2 separate regions of the Homo sapiens genome follow, and region 1 is linked to region 2. The links come from fine-mapping of genetic effects on gene expression. A gene starts in region 2. The other region holds a variant in brackets. All regions are shown on one strand. Distances are from middle to middle.

Region 1 (5,373 bases), 32 kb after region 2:
TCAAGTGATTAAAAACAAAAACAAAACAAACAAAAAAAACCTCTGGTCACTAAATACAGATGTGATCTATTCTTATTCTTATAACGTTATAAAATGACTATAAACAGGATGTGTAAATGTGCTTTTCCGAATAGGGGATCTGATAAAAAAATAAAATAAGCAAACAAACAAGCAAAAATAAACTGTGTAAATGCTTTGAATGATATCATATATTGGTTTGTTTTGCCAGCTTAACATTTATGAAGATAGTCTAAAATGTGTACCAAAAAAATTAGGTAGATATTTCTTGGTTTACTGTCTTCTAGACATCCATGCAAAAAACAAAAGTTGGTTGCTTTGGCTAAAAGTGATAATTAATAAAACAATAAAGGCTATACTCATAATAATTACAGAGAAATATGAATATGTATGCAAGATAATATAGTTTATTAAATAAATTCTGGATATATTTACATTATAATTTCAAGTATAAATACATTGATTTATTTAATATACTGATTGGATTAATTTTATCTTAAAGTTAAAAGCTTTAATTTTGTAACTTATTTACATAGCCATGTAATTATATATGTCTAAACACACACATATAAATGTATATTAAGATCAATTGAAGAATCATCTATAAATGGTTAAAAAATTTTAAGGTGAAATCAATGTTAGTAGATTTATTAAAAACAGATAAATTCTTGACTAAAAATTGTTGCATGGATGATATTCTAAAATAAAAAAAGTCAAATTAGAATTTGGATTTTCTTTTTGGAAAATGACTAAGTTAGTCTGTGACCAGATAACAGCTATCCTTTTGAAACACCAAAATACTCTATTAATTCTCTAGACTTCTTGGCATACTCTGGAATAATTTTGACCAAAAATTCCTCACTTTTCAGTTAAGTTCCTAGTAATAACTGTTCCCTACTGACGTGGTTTTTAAATACGTATAATAACTATAACTGTCTTTTGGAGTTTTTGTTTGTTTTGATAGGGTCTCGCTCTGTCACCCAGGCTGGAATGCAGTGGTACAGTCTCCACTCACTGCAGCCTTGACCTCCTAGGTTCAAGCCATCCTCCCACCTCAGCCTCTCCAGTAGCTGGAGCTACCAGCATGTGCCGCCATGCCCAGATAAATTTTATTTTTTTAATTTGAGACGGAGTCTCCCTTTGTTGACCAGGCACAAATTGTGCAGTGGCACAATTTGGGTTCACGGCAACCTCCACCTCCCGGATTTAAGTGATTCTCCTGCCTTGGCCCCCCAAGTAGCTGGGATTACACCACTGGGCGCACCACCACACCCGGCTAATTTTTGTATTTTTAGTAGAGACGGGGTTTCACCCTGTTGGCAGGCTGGTCTCCAGCTCCTGACCTCAAGTGACCCGCCCGCCTCAGCCTCCCAAAGTGCTGGGATTACCGGTGTGAGCCACCGTGCCCGGAGGTCTTGGATTTTAAAAATTATAATTTCTGTTCATACCTTATATCTTCTGACAATTCTTCTTCATTCTGCCTTTATATTAGGCCCTAAATTCAGAATAATAAAAATGTTAAGATGTTTTTTATCCTTCAAATATCTTTAGACTTCCTGAAATGACTGTTAGGTATCACAAATATTTGCTCATTCACTTTCTACTCAGGAAGAATAATTGAAATAATTGTTTGGCCTAGAGTGGTGGCTCATGCCTGTAATCCCAGCCACTTTGGGAGGCCAAGGCGGGCAGATCGCTTGAGCCCAGGAGTTTGAGGCCAACCTGGGCAACACAGTGAAACCCATCTCTGTGAAAAATACAAAATACAAAAAATTAGCCAGGTGTGGCAGTGCACGCTTGTGGTCCCAGCTACTTGGGAGGTTGAGGTTGGCAAATTGGTTGAGCCCAGGAGGCAGAGGTTGCAGTGAGCGGAGATCATGGGGAGATCATGGCACTGTACTCCAGCCTGGGCGACCCCAACTCAAAAAAAAAGAAAAAGAAAGAAAGAAATAATTAAGTGTGGGCATTTTTCAAACTTAAACAATGGTGAGAACTACTTTTTAGTAGCAATTAAAAAAAAAGGACAAAAGAAAAGGAAAAAACCCATATTTTATGAATTTTCTACAATGTGACATTTTTATTTTAAAAATAAGTAACTTAAAAATAGATATTACTCAGCCGGGCATGGTAGCTCATGCCTATAATCCCACACTTTGGGAGGCTGAGGCAGGCAGATCATGAGCTCAGGAGATTGACACCATCCTGGCTGACACAGTGAAACCCCGTCTCTACTAAAAAAATACAAAAAATTAGCTAAGCGTGGTGGCGGGCGCCTGTAGTCCCAGCTACTTGGGAGGCTGAGGCAGGAGAATGGCGTGAACCTGGGAGGCGGAGCTTGCAGTGAGCAGAGATCGCACCACTGCACTCCAGCCTGGGGGACAGAGCGAGGGTCCGTCTAAAAAAAAAAAAAAAAAAAGGTAAATAGAAATTTAGTTAAAAATAGAAAGTTAAAGAGCATATCAATCATATACATATTTAATGTATTTTAGTTTATCTAAATCTCTCTTGGTAAGCCAACAGCTGGAAGACATGCACTAAGAAAATGGGAAGCAGTTGGTAGAAATAATTTTTGGATATGTGGAGAAATAGCTGGGATTAAAAAAAAAGTGCTGTGGGAATCTGGGGTCATAAAGAGACTGTTGCAGAAGGGGGATGTTAGAAAGAACAAAAAACCGGGAATTTAATTTTTTTCACAGGAAAATGAAACAGAAAAAACTGCTTTGGATATAGCACAGAGCCAGTGAAGGATATACAATGGTACTTCTGAAACAAAGGGAAGAAAAGAATGCCCAGAAGTTTGTGTATAGGAGAACCTACCCAGCAGTTCTGCTGTGAGCATCAAGAGGGAAGGCTAGGTCTTTCTTCATGAAATGGAGAGCCTGGAGAATGCTGGGCTGGTAATGTCAGCAGATCAATTTACCTACTCAAAACTCATATTTCCACTTTCCTTTTGGGTTCACAAGGGTGATCTGCTAAGATGGCTAAAGTCTCTGGGGACTTTTTTTTTTTTTTTT[C/TC]TGAGACAGCGTCTTGGTTTGTTGCCCAGGCTGGAGTGCAGTGGCATGATCTCAGCTCACTACAACCTCTGCTTACCTGGTTCAAGCTATTCTCCCACCTCAAACTCCCAAGTAGCTGGGATTATAGGTGTCCACCACCATGCCCAGCTAATTTTTTTTTTTTTGAGATGGAGTCTAGCTCTGTTGCCCAGGCTGGAGTGCAGAGGCGCGATCTTGGCTCACTGGAACCTCTACCTCCCAGGTACAAGCGATTCTCCTGCCTCAGCCTCCCAAGTAGCTGGGATTACAGGTGCCCGCTACCACACCCAGCTAATTTTTGTATTTTTAGTAGAGACGGGGTTTCATTGTGTTGGTCAGGCTGGTCTCAAACTCCTGACCTTGTGATCTGCCTGCCTCTGCCTCCCAAAGTACTGGGATTACAAGTGTGAGCCACTGTGCCCAGCCTAATTTCTGTATTTTTAGTAGGGACAGGGTTTTCCCATGTTGGCTGGGCTGGTCTCGAACTCCTGAGCTCAAGTTATCTGCCTGCCTGGGCCTCCCAAAGTGCTGGGATTACAGATATGAGCTACCACGCCCGGCCTCTGGGGACTTATTAATTTACTATATTTTGTTCTAAAGGAGGACTTTTAATGTTAGCTAGTAGTACAGTATATTGTATAGAAAAAAGGATAGAGGCATGCATAACAACTATTAGCACAAATACATATGTGCATTTTTTCTCTTCTAGCACTGATGTGACTCCTGTCATTAGCAGTTGTGACACACATTGCTTAAAATCAACAGCTGATTCAACATTTGGAAATATAAACTTTATGAATAAAAATTATATAATCCAATTGAAGATTTCTATAAGCTCACCCAAGAAGTATAATACCTCAGCTAACTACATTCTCGTTTGGGATTTTATTCTTCCTTTTTGCTTACAAATATTCTTGAATTTATATTCCTAAAGGCAAAAAAAAAAAAAAAAAAAAAGGCACATACTAAAATGAGCAACTGCTTCTCTTCTTTCTTTCTTTCTTTATTTTTTTGTTTTTTGGAGGGTGTGGGGACAGTGTCTCGCTCTGTTGCCCAGGCTAGAGTGCAGTGGCGCGATCTCAGCTCACTGCGACCTCTGCCTCCTGGGTTCAAGCGATTCTCTTGCCTCAGCCTCTGAGTAGCTGGCACCACAGGCACATGACATCGCGCCCAGCTAATTTTTGTATTTTCTGATAGAGGCGGGGTTTTGCCGTGTTGGCCAGGCTAGTCTCGAACTCCTGACGTCAGGTAATCTGCCTGCCTTGGCCTCCCAAAGTGCTGGGATTACAGGCATGAACACTGCGCCCGGCCCCTTTATTTATTTATTTACTTATTTAAAGACGGAGTCTCGCTCTGTCGCCAGGCTGGAGTGCAGTGGCGTGATCTTGGCTCACTGCAACCTCTGCCTCCCGGGTTCAAGCAATTCTCCTGCCTCAGCCTCCTGAGTAGCTGGGACTACAGGCGCGCGCCATCACACTCAGCTAATTTTTTGTTGTTGTTGTTGTTGTTGTATTTTTAGTAGAGACAGGGTTTCATCATGTTGGCCAGGATGGTCTCAATCTCTTGACCTCATGATCCACCCGCCTCGCCCTCTCAAAGTGCTGGGATTACAGGCGTGAGTCACCGCACCCGGCCACATTCTTTATTTTTAACAGCTTTTTTGAGCTATAATTCACATTTCATGCAATTAATTTATTTAAAGAGTAAAATTGTATGGTTTTTAGTGTATTGACAAAGCTGTGTACCCATTACTGCAATGAATTTCAGAACATTTGTATAGCCCCAAAAAGAAATTCTTTACCTATTAGCAATTGCTCCTTATTTCTCTCTGACGTCCCAGCCCTAGGCAACCACTACTGTCTGTTCCGTCTTTATAGGTTTGCTTCCGGGCATTTAATATACATGGAATCATACAATATGTGGCCTTGTGTTACTGGCTTTTTCACTTAACGTGATGTTCCCCGCTTCATCCATGTTGGAGTACATATCAGTACTTTATTCCTTTTTATCACTGAATAATAGTCTATCCTATGGTGTGAAAAAAAAAGCATGAACACAGCAGGCTGGAGACTGCTATCCTTAGAAAAGCCTGCTTACGGCCGGCCGGGCGCGGTGGCTCACGCCTGTAATCCCAGCACTTTGAGAGGCCGAGGGGGCGGATCACAAGGTCAGGAGATCGAGACCATCCTGGCTAGCACGGTGAAACCCCGTCTCTACTAAAAATACAAAAAATTAGCCGGGTGTGGTGGCGGGCGCCTGAAGTCCCAGCTACTCGGGAGGCTGAGGCAGGAGAATGGCGTGAACCCGGGAGGCGGAGCTTGCA
Region 2 (5,373 bases):
AACATACTTTTAGGAAAAATGGTTTTGATAAATTCATGTCTAACAAATTATAATAATAGATTAGATTATAATAGATTAACAATATTAATAACAATAGATATTATTATAGGACAGGGCACAAGAAATTATCCTTTAAACAAGATCCCTAAATCATTCTTTTGCAGCCTGCATTGAAATTGCACATTGCCTAGCGTCAAATTCAGAAAAATTTATTTAGGCAACTAAGACATTTTTATTTTTGGATTTCAGAATAAGTCTGCCACAGACACAAAGATTCCAAGAAGTGGCTCATAATGTCATCTAGCAGAAGACACACTTGGGGAAAAAGGTGGGGGAGGGGTATTATGTTTTGTTGCAAAATTGATTTTGTATGAGGTTTCTTACTCCCCAAATCTACCTTCAGAAAACGGTAGTATCTAATGATCTAATGCCACATCACTACCTCTCCTGTCCTTATCCTTGGTCTCCTGATGACCGCAGAAAGCAAGAGAGAGCCAGAGTGGAACGAGTGAGCTGTTAACTATAAATTACAAAAATGAGGACTCCTTTTTTCTCTGAAAACCAAGAAAGCGGTTACTCTGTCACAATCCAAAAAAAAAGGAAATTAATCAATCATCAGTATTTGTCCTGAAATTTTCCGCAGAGGTCTCTGGTGTGATTAAAAACGTGGGGGAAGGTCAGGCGCGGTGGCTCGCGCCTATAATCCCAGCACTTTGGGAGGCCGACACGGGAGGATTACCTGAGGTCAGACCAGCCTGGTCAACTAAAAATACAAAAATTAGCCGGGCGTGGTGGTGCGCGTCTGTAATCTCAGCTACTCGGAAGGCTGAGGCACCAGAATCGCTTGAACCCCGGAAGCAGAGGTTGCACCACTGTATTCCAGCCTGGGAGACAGAACAAGACTCTGTCTCAAACAAAACAAAACAAAACAAAACAAAACGTGGGGAAGAGGCCGGGTGCCATGGTTCACGCCTGTAATTCCAGCACTTTGGGAGGCTGAGGTGGGTGAATCACTTGAGGTCAGGAGTTTGAGACCAGCCTGGTGAAACCCTCTTCTACTAAAAATATAAAAATTAGCTGGGTGTGGTGGCACATGTCTGTAATCCCAGCTACTGGAGAGGCTGCGACAGAAGAATCGCTTGAAGCTGGGAGGCAGAGGTTGCAGTGAGCTGAGCTCACACCACTGCACTCCAGCCTGGGCAACAGAGCGAGACTCCGCCTCAAAACAAAAACAAAAACCGTGGAGAAAATGCTAAACTCGATTTCTTCTGAACCTATGCTAAGATGTCAAGGTACTGTGATTCTTCTAAAAGAATTTTAAAGGTTGTTATGTTTGGTGTCCTAAAAGTGTACATGGATTTTATATTATAACCTACATCAAGAAACTCATTCAGGCCAGGCGCCTTGGCTCATGCCTGTAATCTCAGCACTTTGGGAGGCCAAGAATTCCAGACTAGCCTGGGCAATATGGCGAAACCCCGTCTCTACAAAAAATACAAAAATTAGCCAGGCATGGTGGCTCTCCCTTCAGTCCCAACTACTCGAGAGGCTGGGGCAGGAGGATGCCTTAAGCCCAAGGAGGTAGAGGCTGCAGTGAGCTGTGATTGCACCACTCCACTCCACTCCAGCCTGGGAACAGAGTGAGACTCTCAAAGAAAAAAAAAAAAAAGCCTTATTCACAGATAATTTTTTTTAAAAATGGAAACTAAAATAGAATTTAAAACCCAAGCTGCTCAGTTTCTTGGAAGATGGATTTTTCCTACTTGGTAATATACTTTGTATATCTCGACTATTATTGTGCATGCAAGCACCTCTAAGAAGTACTTGTATCTGCAATGAATTCTTAAACCTCAGGGAGCCAAATAAAAAGACAAGGCCCGAGGAATTCTTTCAAAAATTAAAGTAACATTTCATATTTGCTTATTCTAACAGACAAAGAATAAAGAAGGAATCCGCTAAGTTGCAAGCTGAGGTGCAGACAAGTGCTGGTTCACAGTGACATCCTAGAAGGAATGCTCTGGATAAGAGCTTCAAGCTTCTGTGGTTTTCTGAGGAAAGTGAACGGAATCTAGACGTGTCCTATAGCTCAAAAAATCAGCGCTATGGACCACAGCGCCTAACAGAGTAAAATAATACACTGTGCAGTTTGGCCACTAACAGCAAGAGTGGGAAGGGGCGAAGAGGAACCTTGATTGCCCGACACCAGGGCCACCTGAAAAGTCATCTTGACACTTCAGTCTTTCCATTTTGAGATCGGAAGCTTTAAGGACCATTAAATCGCTGCCGCTGCCACACCAGGCCCGACGGAGCAGAAAGGCTGCGCTCACCTGCGGAAGCGACCGGGTGCACACCTGCCGGGTGGCGAGGCCCGCACCGTCACACCCCGCCCCGGCTTACCTGCCCTTCGGTGATTTTTAGCGTCAACTTCCATCCCTTCCCACCCATCTGGATCCAACCAAGCGCAAGGGCGGGGGAGGGAGAAGCTAGTGTCGCGAGGAAAAGCATCCCCGCAACCCACCGCAGGCTTTCTCTCCTTCCTCCCCATTCCACACAAGAGGCAGCCACACCGCCTCTCCTAACCCTCGTCTCCAATGCAAGGCCTGAAATACTTAGAAAAAATAATAACTGTTTTTAAGGAAAAGTAACATCCCCGCTCCCTTCCGCCCCTCACCTTCACGAAAGCAATCGGGGTTGTGGTACCTTCGATATCTAACAGGATCACGGTGACTTCGGCGGGGACCGAAAGCACGACCATTTCCCTACCGGATGCTACGGGACTCGGCCTGCTGTTGGGGAGGGCGGAGGGCGGCGCCGGCTGCGGCTGCGGCCCCCGGTACCGTCTTGGGCTTCCGGCGGCCCCGCGCGATCTCGGAGCCAGCGACCAAGTGCAGCCCGCCGCGCGTGGGGAGAGGACACTTCTGCACACCTGGAACTGGAAAAGGCGGCCGCCCAGGAGCCCTGAACTCGTGAGCAGGACGGGGCAGGAGCCCGAGACCACGTGGGCAGGAAAAGGGGCGGCCCTTGACGGGTTCGGCGGGGCGGGGAGGGTGAAGGCGCCAGCGCCGATTGGCCGCCGTCAGGCCTCGAACTGGATCCGTCAAAATGGGCCTCGCGTGGGCGGGAACAAAGAAGCGAACGCGGGAGCAGGGTGCGCGAGAGCGCGCCCTCCGCAGACAGGTTGAGCGAGCGGGAGAGGCCCGGGGCACGTGCAGAAAGGAGCCCCGCGAGTGGCGCGCCGGGGATGTGAGTGCCCCTTGCCCTCTACTGAATCCAGCCCCCTCCCCGCCCACCGCCTCCGCCTTTGCATAGATACAGTCATCTGGCCAGCCCCCGCCCCTCCTCCCGGCGTCAGCCCGCCAGAGGCCGCGCGGGGCCCGGGCTTCGGCCGATCAGCCCGGGAGGCCCCGCCGCGCCCCCTTGGCCCGCGCGCCCGTGGTCACAGTGGAAGAGGCGCCCGCGCTGCGCTGCCCGGAGGAGCCGTCGCGCGCCCGCTTCCTGTTCGGCTGGTTCCTGCCAGCTCGAGGACAAAACACGCGTGCGCGCGGCGGGCGAGCGCGCTCGCCGCCTCAGTCGCCAGCGCCGGGCGCAGTCCGCCTTTTTCCGGAGCAGACTGGCCGCGGTGCTAGTCGGTAGCAGCGGCCGCCGCAGCGGCTCCGCACTGGCGAACCGAGGGCAGAAAAAGGCGGGGTTGACGGCTTTTTGGTAGGAGTGGGCTGGACCGGACGCCAGAGACAAAGGCTCCCAAGGCAAGAGGGACTGTGGCCCTGCGTCGGCTCTGCTCGGGACTGCTGACCCCAGGAATTTACGCCCCTTCGTTTTTCTCTTCTGATTCTTCTCTTCTCCCAAGCCCGCGTCCCCTCACGCGTGGCCTCTCTCCTTGCCGGGAGGGCCGCGATGGAGGTCCCGCCCAGGCTTTCCCATGTGCCGCCGCCATTGTTCCCCTCCGCTCCCGCTACTTTAGCCTCCCGCAGCCTCTCCCATTGGCGGCCGCGGCCGCCGCGGCAGCTAGCCCCGCTCCTCCCTTCGCTCGCTCCCAGCTCCGCCCGGCAGGGGGCGCGCCGGGCCCAGCGCCACGTCACCGCCCAGCAGCCCTCCCGATTGGCGGGCGGGGCGGCTATAAAGGGAGGGCGCAGGCGGCGCCCGGATCTCTTCCGCCGCCATTTTAAATCCAGCTCCATACAACGCTCCGCCGCCGCTGCTGCCGCGACCCGGACTGCGCGCCAGCACCCCCCTGCCGACAGCTCCGTCACTATGGAGGATATGAACGAGTACAGCAATATAGAGGAATTCGCAGAGGGATCCAAGATCAACGCGAGCAAGAATCAGCAGGATGACGGGTACCGCACGCTTCTTCCCCCGCTCCCCCTCCCCCAGCGCGCCGCACGCGCCCTTCGTTCCTCGTGAGCCGCGCGCTGCCCCCATTCTTTCTCAGAGTCGATTCCCCGCGTGCCTTCTGGGCCCCACTAGATTGGAGGGAAGAGGAAAGTAAGAGATCGAGGGGGTGACTGGAGAGACCCGGGAAGAGTGGGGGAAGGGCGGAGGGGTTGGAGGAGGAGGGCGGCGGCGTCTGTGTCCCGAGCGCGCAGGCGCCGCGTGGGACCCGGGGGGGAGGGGCCGGCCTCCCAGCGCTGCACGCTGCAGCTGCCGCCGCCTCTTCATTGTGTCTCTGTTACCACTCGGCGCGGTTTTCCTGGGAAGAGTTTTAGAGGACTGAGTTGGGGCACAAGCAGGCGACTGGTACCCAGATTCACAAAACGTGTTATGATTGATGAGTTCTCTGGGTGGAACGTTGGCTTGACAGCTGAGAACGAAGATGGACCTAAGTAAGATAAGATGTGAGGGATTCATCTAGGAAGTTGTGCCTTCTACCTAAAGGAATCTGGGCAGAACCTTTACTGTATTTTATTGGTCTCTTTTGAGCTTTGCTTTATGTAGTGCGGACAGTGAGCTGTCCGCTGGTTTGAGTAACTTCGTTGGGATATTGGGATTTTTGTGTGACATAGATTAAATGTAAACATGAATTAAATTGCCTACACTTAGGGGGTAAATGTCCCTGTTTTTATTTCACGATTTAATTCCAGAACTGAAGGATCATTTGAGTTATTGTTAATTTTTTTTAAAAACACTTTTATTTCTAGTAAAATGTTTATTGGAGGCTTGAGCTGGGATACAAGCAAAAAAGATCTGACAGAGTACTTGTCTCGATTTGGGGAAGTTGTAGACTGCACAATTAAAACAGATCCAGTCACTGGGAGATCAAGAGGATTTGGATTTGTGCTTTTCAAAGATGCTGCTAGTGTTGATAAGGTAGGAACTATGTTTTGCATTGTGCTGCTTTTGTGGTGTTTTGCAAATTTTTCTGGGGGTTATATG

Which allele goes with the higher level. Positions count from the first base shown, and alleles are read on the strand shown. Sizes are in standard deviations (SD) of each study's normalised expression.
With allele TC in place of C in region 1, the expression in monocytes of the gene that starts at base 3,123 in region 2 is lower (small effect, 0.19 SD a copy in Fairfax 2014).

What was found. PIP is the estimated chance that this variant, and not a neighbour inherited with it, causes the effect. A credible set is the group of variants that fine-mapping cannot tell apart.
Region 1: its variant is the best candidate, but not a certain one, in a credible set for the expression of HNRNPDL in monocytes (Fairfax 2014, PIP 0.86).

What each region holds. Positions count from the first base shown.
Region 1 is chr4:82,396,058-82,401,430 of GRCh38, reverse strand. It overlaps the pseudogene IGBP1P4. Among named protein-coding and RNA genes, the nearest start is that of HNRNPD-DT, 24 kb to the right of the region's middle. The variant C/TC (reference allele first, on the strand shown) is at 3,033.
Region 2 is chr4:82,428,212-82,433,584 of GRCh38, reverse strand. It overlaps HNRNPDL (heterogeneous nuclear ribonucleoprotein D like), which reads left to right and starts at 3,123. Exons shown (of 8, transcript NM_031372.4): 1 at 3,123-4,337; 2 at 5,139-5,307. The coding sequence starts at 3,895. ENOPH1 (enolase-phosphatase 1) reads right to left here and starts at 2,995. Exons shown (of 6, transcript NM_021204.5): 1 at 2,672-2,995. The coding sequence starts at 2,755. RefSeq lists enhancers at 2,405-2,504, 2,868-3,663, 3,815-3,904, 4,225-4,284, 3,664-4,459 and silencers at 2,745-3,064, 3,185-3,584, 3,955-4,194, 4,505-4,674.